Homo sapiens: one gene and its partners. The protein of the gene in region 2 purifies or fractionates together with the protein of the main gene of each other region. This does not show direct contact. Each region holds a gene or a part of one and is shown on either strand. Other genes may lie near its edges. The genes, in order: SLC19A1, CD164L2 and ARL5B.

Evidence for each region.
Region 1: the proteins of CD164L2 (region 2) and SLC19A1 purify together in Homo sapiens (affinity purification with mass spectrometry; 3 studies listed by BioGRID and IntAct, with this or other methods). This does not show direct contact.
Region 3: the proteins of CD164L2 (region 2) and ARL5B purify together in Homo sapiens (affinity purification with mass spectrometry; 2 studies listed by BioGRID and IntAct, with this or other methods). This does not show direct contact.

What each region holds. Positions count from the first base shown.
Region 1 is NC_000021.9:45,540,948-45,544,690, forward strand, and holds the start of SLC19A1 (reduced folate transporter), read right to left. Parts: upstream 1,494-3,743; 5' UTR 1,421-1,493; intron 1,380-1,420; exon of another isoform or gene 1,313-1,379; intron 900-1,312; exon of another isoform or gene 525-899; coding exon of another isoform or gene 508-524; intron 1-507. UniProt on the Homo sapiens protein: Antiporter that mediates the import of reduced folates or a subset of cyclic dinucleotides, driven by the export of organic anions.
Region 2 is NC_000001.11:27,381,352-27,385,094, forward strand, and holds the start of CD164L2 (CD164 sialomucin-like 2 protein isoform 1 precursor), read right to left. Parts: upstream 1,983-3,743; 5' UTR 1,889-1,982; coding exon 1,801-1,888; intron 1,317-1,800; coding exon 1,149-1,316; intron 1,049-1,148; coding exon 977-1,048; intron 474-976; coding exon 429-473; intron 1-428.
Region 3 is NC_000010.11:18,657,610-18,661,352, reverse strand, and holds the start of ARL5B (ADP-ribosylation factor-like protein 5B), read right to left. Parts: upstream 1,923-3,743; 5' UTR 1,716-1,922; coding exon 1,670-1,715; intron 1,627-1,669; exon of another isoform or gene 1,461-1,626; intron 1-1,460.

The DNA of each region.
Region 1 (3,743 bases), on a different chromosome or scaffold from region 2:
GTGTTTAAACCAGCTCCTACTCTGGAAGGCTAACCAAGAATGTTCGTTATGTTTTTTAGAACGCCTGCTAGTTTAAAAAGAAGAAGAAGAAAGCATTGCACACCCTCCCACCCCTGTTCAGATGACCAAGTTCAGGGTTCCTAACAGCATAATTAGACCCTCCGGCTATCACTGCTGCAGGCCCAAACACCCGAGAAGCACTCTTTCTCATCTGTGTCCAGCAGAGATAACTGTACTATCTGGAATTATAAAAATCCACCAAAGCCCCTTCGGAAAGAAAGCAATTAGCAATTGCAACAAGCAGTGCACAGGTGGCACCCAGGCAAAGGCGGCCAGTGAGATGCAGCCTGGCTCCCAGGCCTGGACAGGGCAGGCAGGTGCACTGGGCCAGAGGCACCTCGGCTCTGCTGATTGAATCTGGGCTGTGCGGGGATCCTCGGGTCTCCGTAGGGGGAGGCCACCTCTTTACAGGGCGGCCAACAGGCGCCTCCAAGGACTTTATCCCACCTTCCCTCTGGATGCATTCTGGATTTCGGGGCCAGCTTAGTTGGCCTGTGTCCTGAGGCCAGGCAGGCCAGACTCCCCAGGACAGGAGTTTCCGATGGACAGGACCCTAGGGGGATGGCTTTCCTGCTGTAGCGGTGTTGGAAGGACCCACTCGGGAAAGGCTCCAGCGGCTGTCCAGGCTCTCTCTGAGACGCCTCGGGATTGCTCCGCTGGATCCGCACCCACAGCTGCTCCAAGGGGAAGTTGCACCTACAAAGCTTCTGGCACAGGAGACAATGGTCTGGAGATGTGCCAGGGGCCCGCCCCACGCGTGGCTGGCAGGGTTCACCCACCGGCTGGCCCGTCCCGAAGCAACACGTGCCTGGGCGCGAACGCCGGATCCACGCTTTCCTCCAGACCCGGGGGTGGGACTTGGCGCCCCAGGATGACGCGGAGGGCAGGCTGGGGGCCGGGACTCCCCACCCCATTCGCAGGCTGCGGCGGAAAGCGAGCGGCGGGAAACCCGCTGCACAGCAACGGTTCTGCCAGGCGCCCGGGCCACCGCGACCCCCGCGGAGACCCCGGCCCACGCCCCGCACCCTCCCCAGGGCCCCCCAGACCCCAGGCTGCAGACCGCAGACCCCGGCCACGCCCCGCACCCTCCCCAGGGCCCCCCAGACCCCAGGCTGCAGACCGCAGACCCCGGCCCACGCCCCGCACCCTCCCCAGGGCCCCGCGGACCCCAGGCTGCAGACCGCAGACCCCGGCCCACGCCCCGCACCCTCCCCAGGGCCCCGCGGACCCCAGCGCCAGCCCCCACACTCACCTCACAGGGCCCTGCAAACCTCGGCCCGCGCCCCGCACTCACCCCAGGGCCCCGAGACACCCCGCAGCCCCCGACACGCGGCCCCGTGGCCCCGTTCCCCACCGGTACCTGCGACTCGGCGGGGCGGCTGCCCTGGGGCTCCCGGACCCGGCCCCGCGCACGCGGACTCCGGGACTACAGCGCCCACAAGGCGGCGCGGCGGGCGCGCGGCTGCGGGGTGGGCGGGTCCGTCCCGCCGAACGCGTCCTGAGGGCGGGGCCTCGCGCGTGGCCGGGCGCTGCGGCAGGAGCGTCCCCACGGGGCACCCTCCCACCCACGGCCGTCTCCCAGCCCCGGCGCCGGCCTCTCCCCACCCGGTCACCGCCGGGGTCACGCGGCCCCTCGTGCTGCGGCCCTACCCCTGGGGCCGCCCCCTGACCCCGACCGCCCCTCGGGCCCCCACCCCCGCCGGCGTCAGCATCCTGGGGTGCCACTCGCGGAGGTGTCGGTCCCTCGGGCGGGCACCCTGCCATCCCTCTCCCCCGCGTTCTTCCCACCCCCGGTCCCCTCCTGACCCCCCCTCCTCGACGAGGCCTTGTGCGTTTTCCTTTTGGCACCCTGGAACACCTGCATTCCTGGCCGCAAGCTGGATCCGGGACGCGGGTCGGGCCCACGCGCCCTCAGGGGTGGCCCTGGGCCGCCTTCGTGGGGCTCCAACAGGGACACGCACAGCCTGCTCTTGGGGACCGCACGGCCCCGAACTCGGCGCCCCCGGGACCCCGCCGCCCGCCCTCCTGCCTGACCGTGACCCGTACGGGCTTGTACCAAGGAGCAAGCCGGATCCAGGACGTGGCCCGGGGCCACCAGTCCCCATCCCAGCAGGGACAGCCCGGGGGAGACCCGCGCAGGCCTCGCAGACGGCAGCGCAGTCACACTCAGGAAGGGGGGCCTGGGCCACTCTCCCAGGAAGGCGTGGGGCTGCGGCAGACAGCACCGCCGAAAGCCCAAGGCCTGTGCAGGACACGGGGAGAAGTGGGGGGCCTCAGGGTCACTTTCCCCTGGAGTTACCCAGGGCCTGGCTATGGGGAGGGAAGCCAAGCCGAGGGCTGTGGGGGCCCCAAGGCTAAGGAGGAGCCAGGAAGTCCACTGCACAGAACAGAAGGGGACGGCCACCGTGGTACCCACAGCTCAAGAGTGCGGGTCCCAGGCGAGGGGTGAGTCTGGGGCAGCAGCCCCTGGAATGTACCCCTTCCGGAGTGTAGACAGCACAATCCGCGACCTGCCTCCTGGTGTTGCGGGGGTGCTCTTGGTCTCCCGCCCACCAGCAGGGCAACCCCACCAGGAAGCCAACACAGGGCCCTTGCCCTAAATGGCCGCCTGCCCAAAGCTCTGGCCTGGGCCTTCTTTCCAGAGTCCTGAGTGTAGCAAGCCACACGAACAAATCTCAAAGGAACTTAAAAAGGATTTGTTGGCTGGAAATGGGGGATCTGGGGTAGCTTGCAGAATTTAAGGGAACACTACAGGATGGAGCGCCTCACCTGGAGGGACCCCCTGCTTTGTGGGAGCCCTGGCTCTCTCCCCTGTACTGGCCTTCTCCACGGGTGGGCAGAACCTGGCCCTGCTGGAAGACAGGAGGGGCAACGCGGAGGAGGAGGGGCCCTTCCTTCCCTCCAGGCAGAGAGGAGCCAGCCATGGGGCCAGCTCGCCAGGGCAGCCTGCTCCCTTTACACGCAGGACAGGCCAGGAAGCCGAGGGGAAGTGGGGATGAACAGCAGCGGGGCTCCTAGACCCCTTCCCACAGAAGGATGGCTCCCACCCCCTTCCCGCCTGGAGACAGCAAGGCAGGGAGCCACAGCCCCAAGGGGACCCCGCAGGACCCACAAAGACCAGTCCCTCACCTGTCTCTCCGGTCAGGTGTAGCCGAGCGAATCCGCCCCCGGCCGCGAGGGGCCTGCCCAAGCTGCCCTCGGGTCCCCCTGCGTGGCAGGAGTCCTGGGAGTTCCCCAGCCACACAAGGCCCAGGTTTCCTGCAGGAGCTGCTTCGGAGTGGGGAGGTAGGGCTTCTGCCACCAACAGCACTTGGCAGTTGTAATCTAGAGGCAGCTGCTCTGAGGGAAGAGCCAGGAGACTCGTGAAGAACTTACAGAAACCTCCATTGAGGACTGCGAGGAGTGGCCACAGACAGTGGGGCGTGGGCTTCCAGAGGGCTCCACCCAAAATAGAGATTTACAAACGCAGGTGACTTGGGAGTGACACTGGCATCTGGGAATGGATCCTGTGCTTGGGCCCTCACGAGCCTCCAGCGGTCCCCGTCCTTGCGTGTTTCATTATCGGTTTGTCAAATAGTTAAGTGCCTGAGCGTCAGGGATGGCAGGGAGAGCTGGTCCCTGGGAGAAGCCCTGGGTTGGAGGGATCAGCAGGGGCCCAGCAGTGTGGATCCCGGCCCTCCAGC
Region 2 (3,743 bases):
TGGCATTCTTGCCTCTACTCCGCCAGGAACCCGCCTTGTGACCCTCTCTGGGCCTGGAGGGTGCAGTAGGCAGGCACTGAGGATGTCTCCTGAGCAACTCGAGCCACACACCCTCACCTCCAAGGACAAGTCCCGAGGGGTGACCTTGAGTTCCCAGAACTGGCAATGGGGAGGAGGGATGGGAACTGTCATTTCTTGATTGCCTTCAGTGAGTCAGACACTGAAGTGGGCACTGTACAGCTTCTCATAAAACCTGCAGAGCAACTCTATGAGAAAGGCATCATCCAACCCATTTCACAGATGCGGAGACAGGCTCCGAGGGAGAAGGCGCAGGGCCGAGGTCACAGAGCATGTCAGTGCCTGAGCCCAGAGCTGTCTTCCCCTGCACCTCTGCTCCTCCCACTGCCCCGTCTCCAGGGAGTACTCACCTGTTGTGACTGTCTTCGGTTCATAGGTGGGGTGGTGGTGAGCAGCTGAGGAGACAGGTGATCCATAGCAAAGCAGCCTTCCCACCCCCTGACTCCCATCAAGACCCCAGCCCCCACTCACCGCTAAACTTCCGATTCAGATGCAGCCCTGTCCCTACTCTAGACATCCAACATACTTGCAAGCCCCACACAGTTCCCTCCACCAGATGTGCTCTCTCTCCATCTCTACCTTCCAGGCTCATTACTGATGCCACCTCCTCCAGGAAGCACTCCCTCTCATTCCCTCTGAACTTCCAAAGTCCTTGCTATGCCTTAAACTAGAAGAAGAGCTAACACTCCCATCCCCTCCACACACCTGTACTAATTTTCAGATGAGGAAATAGGCAGAGAGAGGAGGGGACTTCTCAGTGAGCTAAAGGCAGAACTGATACCGGGCCCAGGTATGGGTGAGCAAAATCCACCGCCTGAGAGAGGCTGTTTCCTCCTGGGGGGCAGGCTATGGCTGGGGAGACCCATGCAACTTGGCTTAGGTGCAAGAACCCCCTTACCTGGACATGCCTCTGAGCGGTTGTAGATGGAGCAACCTTCCTTGACCACCTCAGATTGGGCCACACAGTGTCCTGGTGAGAGAAGGTGCAGGGGGGAGGTTTGGGGAGAGGGGCCAGGGCCTTGGGGTTCAGAGCTGGGGGCACTCAATCTGGGGAGGGCTCAGCTCCATACCTGGCTCCTCTGGCCGGCACTGCTCCCACACGCAGCTGGAGAGATTGCGCGCTCCGTCTCCCTCCACGCAGTGCTCACAGACCTCCAGCTGTTTGCAGGCCCCTTGGACCGCCGGCCAGATATTCAGGCGGATCAGGGCTCCCCTCCCAAAGCCTCGAGCTCCTTTACCTGGTAGTGCGGTGGAGTGGGAAGGGAGAATTCCTCGAAGCCAAGCTGTGGCACCCGCCCACCCTCCCACCCAACACTCCGGTGGCCCTCGCCCCTCTGCACACATCTGGGCTCTCACACTCACCCCTGGATCCCCAAGCCCCAGCGCACACCTGGAGCTTCCACAGCAGAGGTCTACACACACCTAGAGCCTCCCCACATTCACCCAGAGCCCCTCCCTTTGCATACACCCGGGGTTCCCAGATTCAGTTGGAGCCACCTCCCCCAGACCACCTGAAGCTCCCTAGGCCCCCACACCTGGGGCCTATATTTACACACAGGGCTCCACACAGAGCTGGAGCCCCCTCTCCCACCCCTGGAGGCCTGCACTTGGCCGGAAAGCCCCCTCCCCTCAAGCCCAGGCTGCTCCTGGGGAGACGGCTGGCTGAGGTGCAAGCTCCATCCGTCCCCGTCGAGCCCCTAGCCAGACCCTGCCGCGAGTTACCAGCCACAGCCAGCTGGGCACATAGGAGGAGGCAGCAACAGCCGCCACAGAGCGCAGTCCGCAAGGCGCGGGGTCCCGGAGCCTCCATGGGCTCGCGGGGTGGGGGTGGCCGGGGGCGGTGGCCGGGATCGGTGGACAGCTGCCGGGCGCGTCCCTCCCAGACTGGGCTCGGCTGAGCGTGTGCGGAGCGAGACCTGGGCAACCGGGGCGTGGCCAGGTGGGGGCGTGGCCAGTGGGAGCGGCAGGTGGGGCGGGGCTCGTCGGTCGGGGCGGAGCCAGGTGAAGGCGGGGCCAGTTAGGGGCGTGGCTAGTGTGCGCGGCCAGGTGAGTTCGGGGGTCTGGGGCGGGGCTTGGACTAAAGCAGGTGGGGTCCAGGACTGGTGGCTGGCGTGGTTACTATGTGCCTCCAAGGGCAGCTTCTTGAAAATTCTGGAAAGTACCGACTGCTTTGATCCTTACTTCACAGGTGAGGAAACTGAGGCTCAGACAAGATGAGTGACTCGTTCGAGGTCACGGAGAGAGGCAGTGGCAAAAATCTGGATTCGAGACGAGGTCACTTCCCTGCCTTCAGGGCTCGGTGCAGGCCCCGCTTTGTACACCCTCCACCCAGGCCCCATGACCGCTGGGCCGGGCCCTAGCTGGCCCCTGCCCTCTGGCTGCCCAAGCTTAGCTTCGGTGCTCCCTCTCCATTCACTGCACCCCTCCACCCGCCTCCCTTCTGCCCCTCATCCGCTGTGTCTGCCTCTGGCCTACCACACCCTCTGGCCAGGTCAGGGGTGACGCCATTACTAGGCCAACTGGGCCTCTCCGCAGCCTTCCCCACGGCTACCACTCCTGCCCTGGCACCAGCCTCTTTTGGTTCTCCTCAGGCTCCTTAGGGGGCACTTCCTCTCCTTCCTCTTCCTCCTCCCCTCCTCTCCCCTCCTTCCCCCATCTGCTTCTCCTAACCCTCTCTTAATCGATGGTGGCCCAGGTTAGTCCCAAGCCCTGTTCCACACTCTCCTGGGGTCATCCTGGACATTCCACTGCCATCAGTCCCCACTTGAAACCCAACAGCTGAGGCAGGAGGATTGCTTGAGCCCAGGGATTTGAGGCTGTAGTGAGCTGTGATCATGGCATTGCACTCCAGCCTGCGCAACAGAGTGAAACCCTGTTTTAAATGAATGAATGAATGAATGCCAACAGGTCACGTATCCCAATAAATATATACACCCACTATGCACCCATTAAAAAAATTTTTTTTGAGCCAACAGATCTCTTAATCATCTCCAGGCCAGTTCTGACTTCACAACTGCCACACCTGTAACTGACAATATATAGCTAGCAATTATTGACCCCTTACTAGCCGAATGTACATTTTGAGAGCTTTTACATGCAACTTCCCATCTAATGTCCACAGCTACCCTCTAGGCATGAGTTTTGTCATTTCCCATTTGCAGGCTGCTCAGGGGCACAGGGTTTCAATGCAGCAGGCCAGGATGTAAAGCTAGGATTGAATGATGCTGGAGGCCATGCTCCCTCTGCTGTGCCTCCCATGGGTCCACGGCATCTCCACCTGAGTGTCCCTGAGGCCCCCAAAACTGCCCACTCAGGGGAAAAGAGACCCTTCGGGTTCTGGGGGAGGGAGGAGGGATAGCATTAGGAGATATACCTAACGTAAATGATGAGTTAATGGGTGCAGCACACCAACATGGCACATGTATACATATGTAACAAACCTGCACATTGTGCACATATACTCTAGAACTTAGAGTATAATAAAATATATATATTATATATATAAAAAAAGAAAATGTGGCACATATACACCACGGAATACTATGCAGCCATAAAAAAGGATGAGTTCATGTCCTTTGCAGGGACACGGATGAAGCTGGAAATCATCATTCTCAGCAAACTATCACAAGGACAGAAAACCAAACACTGCATGTTCTCACTCATAA
Region 3 (3,743 bases), on a different chromosome or scaffold from region 2:
AGTCTGAGTAAGGACACCTCCAACGAAAAAAGACAAGACAGCAGCCATGTAACAGAAAAGGGAGAAAGGAAAACGGGAAAGGATATAAAGGGAAAACCAACTACTTCGGTAACGTTTCGATTCTCCAGCTCAGGGGAAAGAGAAAACTGGTGATTTTTGTATTAATCTTTATACCTTTAAGCATGTCTTAAAATGCTGTTTTACCGCTGGGCGCGGTGGCTCACACCTGTAATTCCAGCACTTTGGGAGGCCGAGGTGGGTAGATCACCTGAAGTCAGAAGGTCGAGACCAGCCTGCCCAACATGGCGAAACCCTGTCTCTACTAAAGATACAAAAATAGGCCGGGCGTGGTGGCGGGTGCCTGTAAATACCAGTTACTCGGGAGGCTGAGGAACAAGAATCGCTTGAACCCAGGATGCAGAGGTTGCAGTGAGCTGAGATTGCGCCACTGCACTGAAGCCTGGGCGACAGAGAAAGACTCTGCCTCAAAAAATAAATAAATAAAAATAATATTTTAAATGTATGGATAATACCCACAAAGTGTGAAGCTCTGCTCACTTTGAAATCATTTGATAAGTAATATTATCTGTGGTTACTGGATACAGGCATATACATATATATACACATGTGTGTGCCTGTATCTATATTTATAACCTTGAAAAAGACTGCTTTAGTGTTCTTATCAATCTACAGAACAAGTCAACTAAAGCCATTCCATTACCTCCACAACTTCTTAAATCCAGAAAAAGATTAGATACCTACATTAGCAGTAACAAATTGGTACCAACATAAAAGGAAATAAAACTGGCTTATTAACGATGCCCGGCTCTTAAATGTAAAATGAAACGAGTTGATTTTCAAAACTGGTTTCAATTACTAAGAAACCATTCTGTTCAAAGGACGCCTCAAACTTTAACTTATCGTCGGCCCCTTTTTTGGTCTGGGTGTTTTCTCTCTTCAGAAGACATCACATCTCATTCTGATTCAGAACAGGTTTTGCAACTTCTCGGCCCTTTGGACCTGCCACTTCCAGGTGTCTCATTACCTGTTACAGACTAATTACGGACACGTAACGTCTTACACAAAACCGAAAAGCATTTAGTTTCTGAACTAAATGCTTTAAAAAAAAAAGTTTACAATGAAGATGCTGGAAAACTCGTGCATCTGAATAGGACAACTCATTCCCAAGTCCTAGAGGAAAGGAGGCGAAATCAGAGTGAAAGTGCACTGGCTTACGGCTCAAACTGCAGGGCGGGAAAACAAAGCACCTACATTACTCAAAAAAAAAAAAGTTCTAGGTTTCTGGGCGGACACTTATCCTGGGGATACACATAGACACAAGCACGCTTCAATAAAGACGAGAAAGGCCCTCCATACGCCTCCTGGCATCATTAGCTGTATCCCGCTTTACTTCGCCAATATCCAAACATTCTCAGTTTGGATTCTGGGACGCCAAATACCTTCTCTTCTGCCTCCCTATTTCTCCCACACGTCAGGTCTCTCCTGTACGTCCTCCAGGTCTAAAACACTGAGTTTCTGCCCGCCCCCTGGCCTAAGTCCCTTCCTCCTCCGCGTCTCCGAACGCTCTGTCCCCTGTCTCCGGTGTCCCCATCGGCGGCGGGACCCTCTGCCTCGGATTCGAGCCGCCGCGCAGCTCCATTCTTCTCACCTTGGTTACAGAAGAGGCTCCACAGTTTGGCGAAGATCAGCCCCATCACGAGCACCGGGGCGGGCCGCGGGGTCCCTCGGCAGCAGGTGCCGCTGCGCCGGGTCCCCCACCGCGGCGCGGGCTGCGCGGAGCCGAGGAGAACCCGCCTGAGATCGCGCAGCGAGGGCACTGCTAGGCCGAGAAGCCTCGACCCGACCACTCAGAAGGCGCCGCGACGAATCCCCACCGGACAGCCCTTTGTTTCGAGCCCACTGAGCCCAACGCCGACCCGTAGTCCCCTCGGTCTGTACCCACCTACCTACCACAGCCTCTCCACAGCCCCAAGCCCCGCCTCCACCCCGCCTCCCCTCCGGATCCCAGGACCACCCATCGCCGGAAGCTAGGCGCGTGACGACGGCGCACTTACGGCAACCCACGCCTTCGACGTGGCGTTTTCTTCGGTTTCACTTCCGGTAGGAGAGTCCCAAACGGCCAGCGGCTGGGAATTTGCGGTATCGCGGGGGGGTGGGAAATTTCCCTTGGTGCGTGCTCCTTCTGATGTCAGCCTTCAAAACGTTTGTGGGACTCCCCTTTGATTTGAGTCTCTGCTGCTAGCAGCTGCTTCCCTGACCTCTAAAACCAGGAAAGACCATAGGTTCTCTAAGTGAGCAGCCGCCGTTTGCTGCTCTTAGAAAACTCACAGAAGTGAAGAGTGTTTCTTTCCTGACTTATTCCTGTTCCCCTAGGCAGGCGTGCTAGGGGTTAGGAGTTCTGCCGTGATTCTTCTTCATTCATTTATTAATCTATTCATTCACGTATTCATTCATTGGCTTATGCATTTATGTACTCATTGATTGATTGATCGATTGCAGACGAGGTCGGGCTGTGTTGCCCAGGGGGACTCAATTTCCTGGGCTCAAGCGATCTTCCTGCCTCGACTTCCCAAAGTGGTGGGATTGCAGGCTCAGCCACCGCGCCCGGCCCCTGTCGTGATTCTTAGTTCTGAAAAGAATTGATTGGGAGACGAGCCATGGAAGGCCTGGAGCCACAGAGTTCAGTTATGTGATTAATAATAACACATAATAATAACACATAGCACCCCTCTCCATTTTGCCAAGCATTAGGTATGTTCGTGGATCCCAGATCGAAGTCCACGCATAAGCCAATTCGCTGTGTAATTGTTTTCAATTCCACTTTCCATGGTTAGGTTCTAGCATTGAAAAGAAAAGCTTCACAGCCTGGCATGAAACGAAACTGAATGTCCTTGAAACCAGTTGACGGAGGAGCAAGCTTAAAATTTTTTTAGACTCTGACTTCAGTCAGATGGTTGGATTTTAACCTTGGCAACGTGGCCTTTTAACATGCCAAACTCTTGAGTTAACCTGTACAAGGAGAATGTATGACTTACGTCCTCCCAGTGCTATGGTTTAAAGACCCTTTAAGACTTAGATGCAGGATAATATGCTCCAACGTTACAACATTAAAGGCAAGTTTCAACCTCCTATGTAGAGGAAAAAGAATGTACTGACCCTATGCAAACTTAACTTTCATGACTATCAGTTGGACCATAAATGTGAATAATTTTGTGTTTGTGTAAGTAATGGCTTAAAAGGACATTTTTAGTCCTAGCTTCATTATCACAAAACAAACTTTAGATTCCGTAACAGCTTCTTCAATTGTTAGACATGGATGTAAACCACATTCTGCTTTTTTTTTTTTTTTCTGGCTTTCGGATTTCTAAGAAACCATTTCTGAAAAGAACAAAGCATTTTTGTATGAAGATGCAGACATTTGGCTGGGCGCTGGGGCTCATGCTTGTAATCCCAGCACTTTGGGAGGCTGAGGCGGGTGGATCACGAAGTCAAGAGATGGAGACCATCCTGGCCAACATGGTGAAACCCTGTCTCTACTAAAAATACAAAAATTAGCCGGGTGTGGTGGCACGCGCCTGTAATCCTAGCTACTCAGGAGGCTGAGGCAGGAGAATTGCTTGAACCTGGGAGGCAGAGGTTGCAGGGAGCAGAGATCACACCAGGGCACTTCAGCCTGGCGACAGAGTGAGACTCCGTCTAAAAAAATAAAAATAAAAATAAAA